Linked DNA regions of Homo sapiens. The protein of the gene in region 1 interacts with the protein of each later gene in a biochemical or structural test. Each region holds a gene or a part of one and is shown in the gene's direction. Other genes may lie near its edges. The genes, in order: PDZRN3, SLC15A5 and EZH1.

Region 1 (3,654 bases):
CATTTCAACCATGTAAGTGCATACTGTACGTTTGTGATATCAAACATATTATTGTGGGTAACATTCAAAAAGACACGGTCCTAGGTAACAGCAGAACAGTTTCATTCTCAGCCTTTTGAACTGATCTCAGAGGCCAGCACATATCTTAGACTGTTGCCTGGGCTCGAGCCTAGTTCTCTGCAGAGATAAAATCTAACAATGAAGCAATAAGCAGTAAAATATTGTCCTGTTTCCTGCGTAGAGATGGAGTTAGAAATCAGTCACGCTGAATCACGTGACTGGCAGGCTCCGGGATGGGCTCTGCAAACAACAAAGCCCATCAGGCTTGCACTTTGCATCTTAAGTCCTTCAGGAGGAAATGTACTAAAGGCAAATGGTAAAATTAGGATGATGGAGGTCCTGACCGTGCTGAGAGCCCCATCCAGAGGGAAGTGAGTCATGAAAGGGCCCACACCCTGGGAATTGCTACTGTGCCACTGGCCTGACAATGGGTGTAAGAAAAACAGATACTGACAACGGAAGAAGGGCTGTAAAGATGTTGCATCTCTTTTCAGGCATCCCTCAGCCCATGAATACTACGATCCAAATGACTACATTGGAGACATCCATCAGGAGATGGACAGGGAGGAGCTGGAGCTGGAGGTATGAAGAACATCCTTGTCTCATTTTAGGAGTCATTATTAAGAACACAGAATGCCTAATAAGTTCTCTATAAGCATAAATTAGTTTACGGATGCCGATGGAAAGTAACAAAAGCAGAACCACTTTTACTGATGCCCTTTGAAAGGCACAACTGAGATTCTTCTTCCTTCCTTGGAAACAGAGCTTAATAATCAAGTCCCAAAAGCAGAAATGTAAACTTTTTTTAATTTGAATCACTTAAAAGTTAGGACAGTAAATCCTGTTGTCAACCTTTGAATCCACATAATCCATACATTCTTGTAACTAACATAAGCCTCCTCACCTTCCTCCCTTTTATGTCATCACCACTCTTTACTCAAAGGCAGATGGCTCAAGAGTAGGTGGATAAATTACTTGAGTGAATGCTAGCCCGCCCTAACAAAAGGGTTTGTTCACTGCTTCACTTGCTTCAAGTTTGCTAACATTGATACAGAAGAAATTAAACAAGTCTGCAACTCTTCTTAAGTGTTATTTGAGGCCACACAGGAATAAAGATTCAAGATGCTACATAATGTCAAATAGGTCTCTGTTAAGGTTTAAAATATTTAGAGGACACCAGGTTGCCAACAGAGTTCTACTTCCCATTTTCCTTTTATTAAGGGTGATAGAAAATACAGAAAACACTAACTTGTATAATATATTTATATTTTGGGGAAAACACTTTTATATTTCAATGGGGTTTCAAAAAATATAACAGCATTTTTGAAAGCTGATTTTATGGAATAAGGTAAAAAGACACCTGATGTTGACAGGTAAGCCCTTGGGTACCATCAAAAGGTCACCCAGGAAAAATCGAACATTTTATCCAATTTCATGGCTAACTGTTGTGTAATCTATGCTGTCCTACCAATACTTCTGAAGTTGAATTGTTCAGTGGCAGTAGGTTCTGTGCAAGGACAGAAGCAGTCAAATAGTAGAAAACAGCTATGTTCCTCAACTTAAAGTTACCAAGAGTTCTCATTCCAAGACAGAAGTTAAAAATCAATAATTGTGTGCAAACGATGACTTCACTGATGGTTAGCCAGATACAGTCAAATCAAAGGACTTGTTGCCAGTGGCATGACTGACTCTGTGCCAGTTTTCAGAAATTTAAAATTTTCCCTAAATGCACCTGGTCTAAACAGCAATGGCCAGTATTCTCACTATAAAAACTTGACTGTTTCTGCTTGCTGTCAGCCACTTACCAAAGCGCTTGCCATTTAACAATTGTTCCAGAAAATGTAGTTTTGTCATTTTCAAAAATCAGGATTCTGCCTCTTATTTAGTGTCCTATCACCCCAGCTTCAGGGCTGTTTGGTGAAGCAGCCGTGACTCCTTCAGGACACTTGTTCCTTAATTTGTTATGTATGTTCCTTCCAAAGGGGGTTCATAATGAAATACATTTGGGAAATGCCAGACTGAAGACAACGAAACAGATTTCTTGGAGGACTTCTGAGAATCTTGACTATCTACCTAGAATCCCCTGGGGGAGTGGGCAGAATTTCCCCCACCTCTCTGGCCAAGTACCTGTTTATATTTCCTCAGTCTACAGTTCTCTGGAACACTGTTGGAGAAACACTGCTCTCCAAACAGAGGGCTATTTCGTAATCTTTATGGGACGACACTGCTTTTTGATGATGTAATTGTGGCAAAGTAGAGTTCTTTTAAAAAGCTGTAAAGTGTTTCAGAAGCTAGAGTTATGAAGTAGTAGAGACTTTGTAGTCTTTGGTATTTAGTTAAACTTGACTTTGTAGCAGTGGGTTCTTTAGTTCTTTTTTTAGTTTCTAATACCTTTGAGAATCTGATGGAACCTACAGCCCCCCGCTCTGGAAAAATGCTCCTGTCTGTGAGAGCTTGCATATGGTTTCAGGAGATTCACTGAGCCCCCACAGTATCTGCCCAATTTGGGCCATTCTGCCTTACAGTTTTTCCTTATACCTGACTATCACCAGAACTCTTACGTGCTTTCTATTTCTCTTTAATTCGACTCAACTTATTTAAACTACGGTAATTTTATTTTAAAGGAAACACTATACCACTGCGTCAAGCAGAAAGTCAGCATCCATTGCCTTAAATAGAAAATCCCATACAATTAAATACAGTGGACACAAGCCAGTGTTATTTATTAAATCCTGGTGCTCAATAAGGGTGCCTGCTGAGGGTTGGGAGCCTGGGGCCACTACATCCTGCCTTTTCTCTAAGGAGATTAGCTAGTATTAAAGAAGTGTTAAGACTAGCCCAGACTGAGTCTTTCTCCTCAAAGCATGAAGCACCTGAGAGCATCCTGCTTTCAGCAGGAGGGAGCCACTCAGAAACTGTTCCCTAGAACCCTGTTGTTCAAAGTGTGGTAGGAGGACCAGCAGCCTGGCTGGTCAAAGTAGAGTTCTCACCTAGGAGATGTGGGAACTACAGAAACTTGGCCCCCTAGATCTTCAGAATCAGAATCTGCACTTTAACAAGGTTCCTAGGTACCTCGGTGCCCATTAAAGCCAGAGGACCCCTGACCTACAGGCCACAGACCCAGATAAAGCAGCCCAAGCTATCATTTCCTCTTGTTCTCTTGAGTCACACCAGCGAGGCTTTTGTGGTGCCTTTCATTCACTGCAGTGTCGAGATGTGCCGCCAAGTCACGAATATTGTCCACACTGTCCCTGCAGTGTAACATTATCAGGGCCTAGGAACGACTGAGCCCCTCGTAGGCATGTGACACTGTGTTCCTAAGACTGCTTCTCTCTTTTCATGAATAAAAGCAGACACAACGCAGGTGTTTAGAAAACTAGTCTGGTATTAATATTTTAAGCTAGACCTTGGATGCCATCAGACTTTATATTCGTGTTTATTTTCAATTCTGTTCATTTTATTGTCTCTTACATTAAATATACTGTTTGGCCCTAGAAATGCAAAATCACGAAGTCACCACTCTGCCTGCCCTTAAGGAGCTCACAAGCCATTAGGACCATTAGACATTAGCTTTTCGTTTCTTCTTAAACAACC
Region 2 (3,654 bases), on another chromosome or scaffold:
ACGGTTAGTGAGTTTAAAATATATTATATTTAATACAAATTCCTGAATTTTAAAAATTGGGGGGAAACTGGGGAAAATATCTTTGGAAATAATCTTTCATCCTGCAAGTACTTATCATTTAATAATCAAACCTATCTGAAAGCATAAAGTTAATTTGGATCAGTGTTCATAATAACCCTACTATCTACCCAGCACCACTCTGCAAGAGTTTAGCAGAGAACAGGTTGATGAGTAATAGAGACAAGATTGTAAGGAAATGTCAGGAAGTTAAGCCACCCAGCCCAGGCTTGTTCGAATTCAGTCTCCAGACTGTTCATCAACACATTCTCTGTTCTCATCTTACCTAAACCTTAAGTAAACTAATTGAAATAGCTAGGAAAGTCTCATAATAGAGCAGTTCATTCTCTAATAATAAAGAGCAGTCCCTATTACTTCTTTCCTAAGAGAAACAAATCTTGGCCTCTCACAGTGGCTTCTGTCTTCTTGGCCTTACCAGTACCTGGGCCTTCATCTACTTCAGGCAATAGTGACTAAGAAGAGACAAAAGTGACCATAGATATAAGCCTATCTCCTGTTAGCAAGTATCCCAACATACTCCCAGATGACCTAAACACACTTCACAAAGGCCACCAAAGAGCCACAGCTGTAATCATTCTTGGTCACTACCAATTTGGGCTGGATTTGATTCAGTGACTTAGAGGTGAAAGGCTCCATATTCAATTACCAGGCCCCCAGCTTCCTCAATTAATCAAAGGCTGACATAATGGGTCTATTACAACTCTTGAAGAAAAGACCAGATCAAATCAATCTAACCACTTTATAGCTATAAAAATATATTAATACATATTCTTTATTTAAACATAAAAACCAAGACTCTATGGCATATAAATGAATTTCATTAGAATGCATTTTATCTAGAATTTTATTATAGGAAACTTGAACATAATCAAAATGACTTTCAAACTATACTTTGAGTTTCTATAGCAGCCTTCTTTGGAGAAACACAAACATTTTCACATTTATTATGCCATTTACCTGGCAACAGTAGTTTGGTGTCTACGTAATTTCTGGGGGGATTTATCTGGTCAAAGGGAGTGCTATGAAAACCTGTAACTATCATGACAGCACAGCTGAACTGCTGCCTAAACGGGGGTCTCTTATCTGTCATTGTATCAGGAAATCCTAATGGAGTCAAAGAAAAGGTAGGAACTAAAAGATCATAAAAGAAGCAACAATGAGGTTGCAAATCACTAGCAGTAAGTGACTGCTGCCATCTGAAGCAATAAAGCGCTTCTGATCGTGCAGCAACAGCCATGTAAACCTAGAAGAAACTACTGGAAAAGTCAAAAGCCAACTAATCTAATCTGAACTCTTAATGACACTATCAACATGCATAAAATCATTTAGAGAGTTCATAGTCTAACCTTATTTCTAAATCCAAGGATAAAGTCAAAGCAGAGATTACATTTCCCTTCATCTCCATGTCACAATAAGAAGCCACCCTCTACCTGCCAAGTAAAATGAGGATTATTTATATAATAATTTATATGAAAAAATAGTACTAGTTCTTTGTGTTAAGGATGTTAAAGAAAGTTCAGTTTATTGTATTCATTAATGCATTAAAGTTAGAGACTTCTGAGAGATTCTGAAGTCCTTAACTTTGGCGTATTATTTTGTCACCTTTCTTTCCCTTTTAATATGTTTTCATTGATCTTACCTTTTACACTTTTGACATCAACTGCTAGGTGCCACCATGGGCTGGTCATCAGGATGCCAGAATCACTGTCAGAAGCGTGGTCCTTTGAGTCCGACCCCTTGGGTGCTAAAAACTTTCTCACTTCACTGCCGTGAATCCTTGAATCGTTATCTTTCTGATCAGCATCTTGAAAAACTGGAGAACAATTCCTATACTAATACATAATATCTCCGATTACTTGCAGGTTGTTCTCTCCTGACAGGCGTTGGGGTGTTGGTTAGTGCACTGAAAACATGCCACCCGCAATACTGCCATCTTGGCAGAGACGTGACAAGCCAGTTAGACCATGCCAAAGAAAAAAATGGTGGCTGCTACAGTGAGCTCCATGTAGAAGACACAACATTTTTCCTCACCCTTCTCCCTCTCTTCATTTTTCAGCTCCTATACAGAATGTGCATTATGCAGGTAAGGACAGGCGATGAGTACTACCCCAACAACAGGAAAGTGATTGCATGTCAACAGTGCAAGTCAAGGTGAATTTTCTCCCCAACGAGCGCTTTCCATATATGTCGGCAGGCAGTTATCCCCACAGAAACTTCTCATCATTACAGGCTCTGATTTCCAGAGCTAAGCGGGGTCAGGCAGAGGTATACCTGAGGAGACCCTGGGATGTGTTTCTTTTGTGGAGCTATAAATGTCTGTCAGTAGGTGCAGACAGTACTTCAGAATGCATAGTCGTAAGGCGTAAGAGCAGTGCACGAACATATCAGATCTGTAGGCAATTACCAAACTTCCCTTTAGCCAAAGGTTTTGCCTTCCTCCCTCATTAAACCTTTAGAAAGTGGTACTAACGAGTAGCTAAACTGACTGATTTGAGTACCACCTCCACTGTACTCTTAAATATAAGTACTAATGAGCAAGTGATTCTCTCCCCACCCACTCTATTAGTTCCTTGGGGAATTCGTTCCTGTGCTGTGAGAAAATCAAGAGAAAATACAAAGCCCAAAGTACCTTTTATAGATATATGTGATTTTAAATTTTTTTAATGTGGTTAGAGTTAAAGACTAACTTATTTACTGAGAAAAATAAATGATTACAAAAGTATTTGAACAAATCTGGGACTTTGTTCATTGCTAACTCCCAACTTGGAATTTAGAAGACTCATGAATGAGTTACATTTAGAAATCATAGAATAATAGAGCTGCAACAAAATTTAGAGATTAACTTCATAAACTACTTTATTTGTTAAACAGGAACCTTAGGCTCAGAAAAATTAAGTGACTTTCTTTTGGTAGAGGTGAGGCACCGTAGGTCACAGTTAATAGTAGTGTAAGGGAAAGCGGAATCTGTCCTCTGCCTCTCAGTACAGTGCTTGCCCCTCTAAACCAGGGGTTAGCCATCCACTATCTGAAGGCCAAATCCAGTCCACTATTTTTGTACATCCTGTAAGCTAAGAAGATTTTTACATTTTTATATGTTTGAAAAAAATTAAAAAAAGAATAGTATTTTCTAGCACATGAAAATTATATAAAATTTAGCCCAGCGTGGTGGCTTACACCTGTAATCCCAGCACTTTGGGAGGCCGAGGCAGGCAGATTACCTGAGATCGGGAATTCGAAACCAGCTTTACCAAAATGGAGAAACCCCGTCTCTACTAAAAATACAAAATTAGTCAGGTGTGGTGGCCATGCCTGTAATCCGAGCTGCTTGGGAGGCTGAGGCTGGAGAATCGCTTGAACCCAGGAGGCGGAGGTTGCGGTGAGCAGAGATCATGCCATTGTACTCCAGCCTGGGAAACAAGAATGAAACTCCATCTCAAAAAAAAAAAAAAGAGAAAAAGCAAAGAAAAATATATAAAATTTAAATTTTAGCGTCCATAAATGAAGTTTTATCAGAACATAGCCATGCTCTTTGTTTTGTCGTATCTATGTCTGCTTATGCACAAAAATAGCAGAGTT
Region 3 (3,654 bases), on another chromosome or scaffold:
ATAATTATTTCATTTTTTAAAAAAGGGGGTGATAGCTGTAAAATAATGAAACAATATTCTTCTGAGTTTCATACACAGATTTGGGAGGAAGTTTCAAAATTAAGTAGTAAGATTGTACAGATTAAGCATTACACATTTTATTAAGGAAACAGAGAAAGTGTGGTAGACTGGAAAGAATAGTGGCCTAGGGAGACAAGGAGCCCTGATTCCTATACCCCTCTGGAACTATTAGCTGCATACTCTCAAGCTAGTTTCTTCCCCTCTCTGAATCTCATTTCTTCATCCATAGGAGAATGTGTTCTCAAATTCCAAACAAGTAACACGCAAGTTAATTTTAGATACAACTCACTGGAAAATTGAAGACACAGATGCATAGATTATATCTTTTTTAAGATTATAGGACATTAGCTGGGCATGGTGACATGTGCGTGTGGTCCTAGCTACTTGGGAGGCTGAGGCAAGGGAATCACTTGAGCCCAGGAATTCGAGGCTGCAGTGAGCAGGCCTCTGCACTCCATCCTGGGCAAGAGAGAGAGACCCTGTCTCAAAAAAACAAACAAACAAAAAAACATTATAGGACAACTCTTTTGTGAAAAAGTACGTAAGTTTTGTTAAGCAGCTCTCATTGTTATATGATCATACTTATTATATGGTACAGAGAAAAAGAAAAGACACTATTATTGTAGACAGATGTTGTAAAGATGAAAGTTTGTGATGATGAGATCAATATGGTGATGGGCCTGTTCCTATTTCCTGTCTGTAATGTGTCCACTGCAGGAAGGAGCAAAGGAGTATGCCATGCTCCACAACCCCCGCTCCAAGTGCTCTGGTCGTCGCCGGAGAAGGCACCACATAGTCAGTGCTTCCTGCTCCAATGCCTCAGCCTCTGCTGTGGCTGAGACTAAAGAAGGAGACAGTGACAGGGACACAGGCAATGACTGGGCCTCCAGTTCTTCAGGTACGATGAACAGAAAATGAAGACTTTTTCTTTCCATGCAAGGACTCTGGTAAACCCAGGATCACTGCCTGACACTTAACTTTACTACCTCTTAAAAATTATAAATTCTTTCTACAAGTTTTGTAAACAGTAAAGATGGGGAATATTTTCTTTTTTTTTTTTTTTTTTTTTGAAACAGTCTCTCGCTTTTTTGCCCAGGCTGGAGTGCAGTGGTGCTATCTTGGCTCACTGCAACCTCCACCTCCCAGGTTCAAGCGATTCTCCTGCCTCAGCCTCCCAAGTAGCTGGGATTACAGGTGCCTGCCACCACGCCCGGCTAATTTTTATATTTTTAGTAGAGACGGGGTTTCGCCATGTTGGCCAGGCTGGTCTTGAACTTCTGACCTCAGGTGATCCGCCTGCCTCGGCGTCCTAAAGTGCTGGGATTACAGGCGTGAGCCACCCTGCCTGGCTAATTTTTGTATTTTTAGTAGAGACAGGGTTTCGCCATGTTGCCCAGGCTGGTCTTGAACTCCTGAGCTCAAGCAATCCACCCACCTCGGCCTCCCAAAATGCAGGGATTACAGGCGTGAGCCACCATGCCTGGCCTAAAGATAGGGAATATTTTCATTCCTAACTGTTCTACCTTTTAAAGTAGAATGAAGTACTTCTGAGTTTGTGACAAACTACTGATGACAACTGCATTCTACCTTCTTCTGATTCTGTTATTTCTTCCCTTCTCAGAGGCTAACTCTCGCTGTCAGACTCCCACAAAACAGAAGGCTAGTCCAGCCCCACCTCAACTCTGCGTAGTGGAAGCACCCTCGGAGCCTGTGGAATGGACTGGGGCTGAAGAATCTCTTTTTCGAGTCTTCCATGGCACCTACTTCAACAACTTCTGTTCAATAGCCAGGCTTCTGGGGACCAAGACGTGCAAGCAGGTACCATCTGGAAGCAGCAGAACAAATGGGCCCCTCCTTTCACGCATTGCTCTGTCCAGCCCTTTGCCATCTTACCAGGCTGTGTGTCTGGGTCTGGAGAGAAGTTGTCTTAAGTTCAGTCCCTGATGAGCCTGTGCTTCTGTGAGTTTCCCAAACATGGCCCTTCTGCAAGTGCCAGGCCTAATGATGTTTGGGGACCCGCCTCCTCCTTGCTGAATGCTCATTTCTGTCTGGACTCTATTTAATGCTTCTGGGTCCTACACTCTTTCGCTTCTTTTTTTTGGCTCTGGCCTCCTTTCTAAATGTGTACCCCTTTCCCAGAAGGGACTCCCAGGTCTTTCTGTGGCTCTTGTTAATGAGCACACTGCTGCTGCTGCTGCAGCTGCTGCAGCTGCTGCTCCCTCCACCACTCCGCCAGCCTCTTCAGTCATTTTATTCTCCACATTTTCTATCACTAGATTATCTTTATTTTGTCTTTGAGACAGGGTTTCACTGTGTCGCCCAGGCTGGAGTGCAGTGGCATGATCATAGCTCACTGCAACCTCCGCCTCCTGGGCTCAAGCAGTCCTCTCCCCTCAGCCAAGCAAGTAGCAAGGGACTACAGGTGCAGGCCAGTATGCCCAGCTAATTTTTTTTTTTTTTTGAGACAGAATCTCGCTCTGTTGCCCAGGCTGGAGTGGTGCAGTGGCATAATCTTGGTTCACTGCAACCTCCGCCTCCCAAGTTCAAGTGATTCTTCTGCCTCATCCTCCCAAGCAACTGGGATTACAGGTGCCCACCACCACACCCAGCTAATTTTTTTTGTTTTGTTTTTTTGAGATGGAGTCTCGGTCTGTTGCCCAGGCTGGAGTGCAGTGGCATGATCTCAGCTCACTGCAGCCTCCGCCTCCCAGGTTCAAGTGATTCTTCTGCCACAGCCTCCCAAGTAGCTGGGATTACAGGTGTGCACCACCACGCCCGGCTAATTTTGTATTTGTAATAGAGACGGGGTTTCACCATGTTGGCCAGGCTGGTCTCAAACTCCTGACCTCAGGTGATCCACCCGCCTCGGCCTCCCAAAGTGCTGGGATTACAGGCATGAGCCAATGTGCCTGGCCATTTTTGTATTTTTTTTTAGTAGAGATGGGGTTTCACCATGTTGGCCAGGCTGGTCTCAAACTCCTGACCTCAAGTGATTGGCCCAGGAAAAGACAGGAAAAGACCACAGTGAGAAGACAGACTGAAGAACAGGGACAAGGAGGCAGCTGTCAGGGCCAGCATGTCCAACAGGAAAGGAACCCCAATGCTTTGGCTTCCTACCTTCTGGAGGAGACTCTGTGGCCTCTTCTTCATGCTTCCTGTACTGAGAACAATTAATAGAACCATGGACTGGGCAAGGTGGCTCACACCTAGAATTCCAGTGCTTTGGGAAGCCATGGTGGGAGGATCGCTTGAAGCCAGGATTTCAGGACCAGTGTGGGCAACAAAGTGAGACCCCATTTCTACAAAAAAAAAAAAAAAAAAAAAGCCACGTACCTGTAGTCCTAGTACTCAGGAGGCTGAGGTGGGAAGATGGCTTGAGCCCAGGAGTTCTATACTACATTGAGCTATGATGGCACCACTGCACTCCAGCCTGGCCAAGAGTATGAGACCCTCTCTCTTAAAAAAAAAAAAAAAAAACAAACAAAAACAGAACCATGAGCTGAAGTGCCCTTTGCTTTCATTTTGGAGCTCATACCTATTTCCCTGATCACAGGTTCTCAACGTAACCATCTATGGATTTGTATGCAAGAATGT

The links.
Region 2: the proteins of PDZRN3 (region 1) and SLC15A5 interact in a test that uses a peptide from one of them, tested with the Homo sapiens proteins (one large-scale study listed by IntAct).
Region 3: the proteins of PDZRN3 (region 1) and EZH1 interact in a test that uses a peptide from one of them, tested with the Homo sapiens proteins (one large-scale study listed by IntAct).

What each region holds. Positions count from the first base shown.
Region 1 is NC_000003.12:73,397,910-73,401,563, reverse strand, and holds part of PDZRN3 (E3 ubiquitin-protein ligase PDZRN3), read left to right. Parts: intron 1-554; coding exon 555-642; intron 643-3,654. UniProt on the Homo sapiens protein: E3 ubiquitin-protein ligase. Plays an important role in regulating the surface level of MUSK on myotubes. Mediates the ubiquitination of MUSK, promoting its endocytosis and lysosomal degradation. Might contribute to terminal myogenic differentiation.
Region 2 is NC_000012.12:16,243,087-16,246,740, reverse strand, and holds part of SLC15A5 (solute carrier family 15 member 5), read left to right. Parts: intron 1-1,717; exon of another isoform or gene 1,718-1,910; intron 1,911-1,940; coding exon 1,941-2,161; intron 2,162-3,654. UniProt on the Homo sapiens protein: Proton oligopeptide cotransporter.
Region 3 is NC_000017.11:42,710,513-42,714,166, reverse strand, and holds part of EZH1 (histone-lysine N-methyltransferase EZH1), read left to right. Parts: intron 1-777; coding exon 778-958; intron 959-1,681; coding exon 1,682-1,878; intron 1,879-3,654.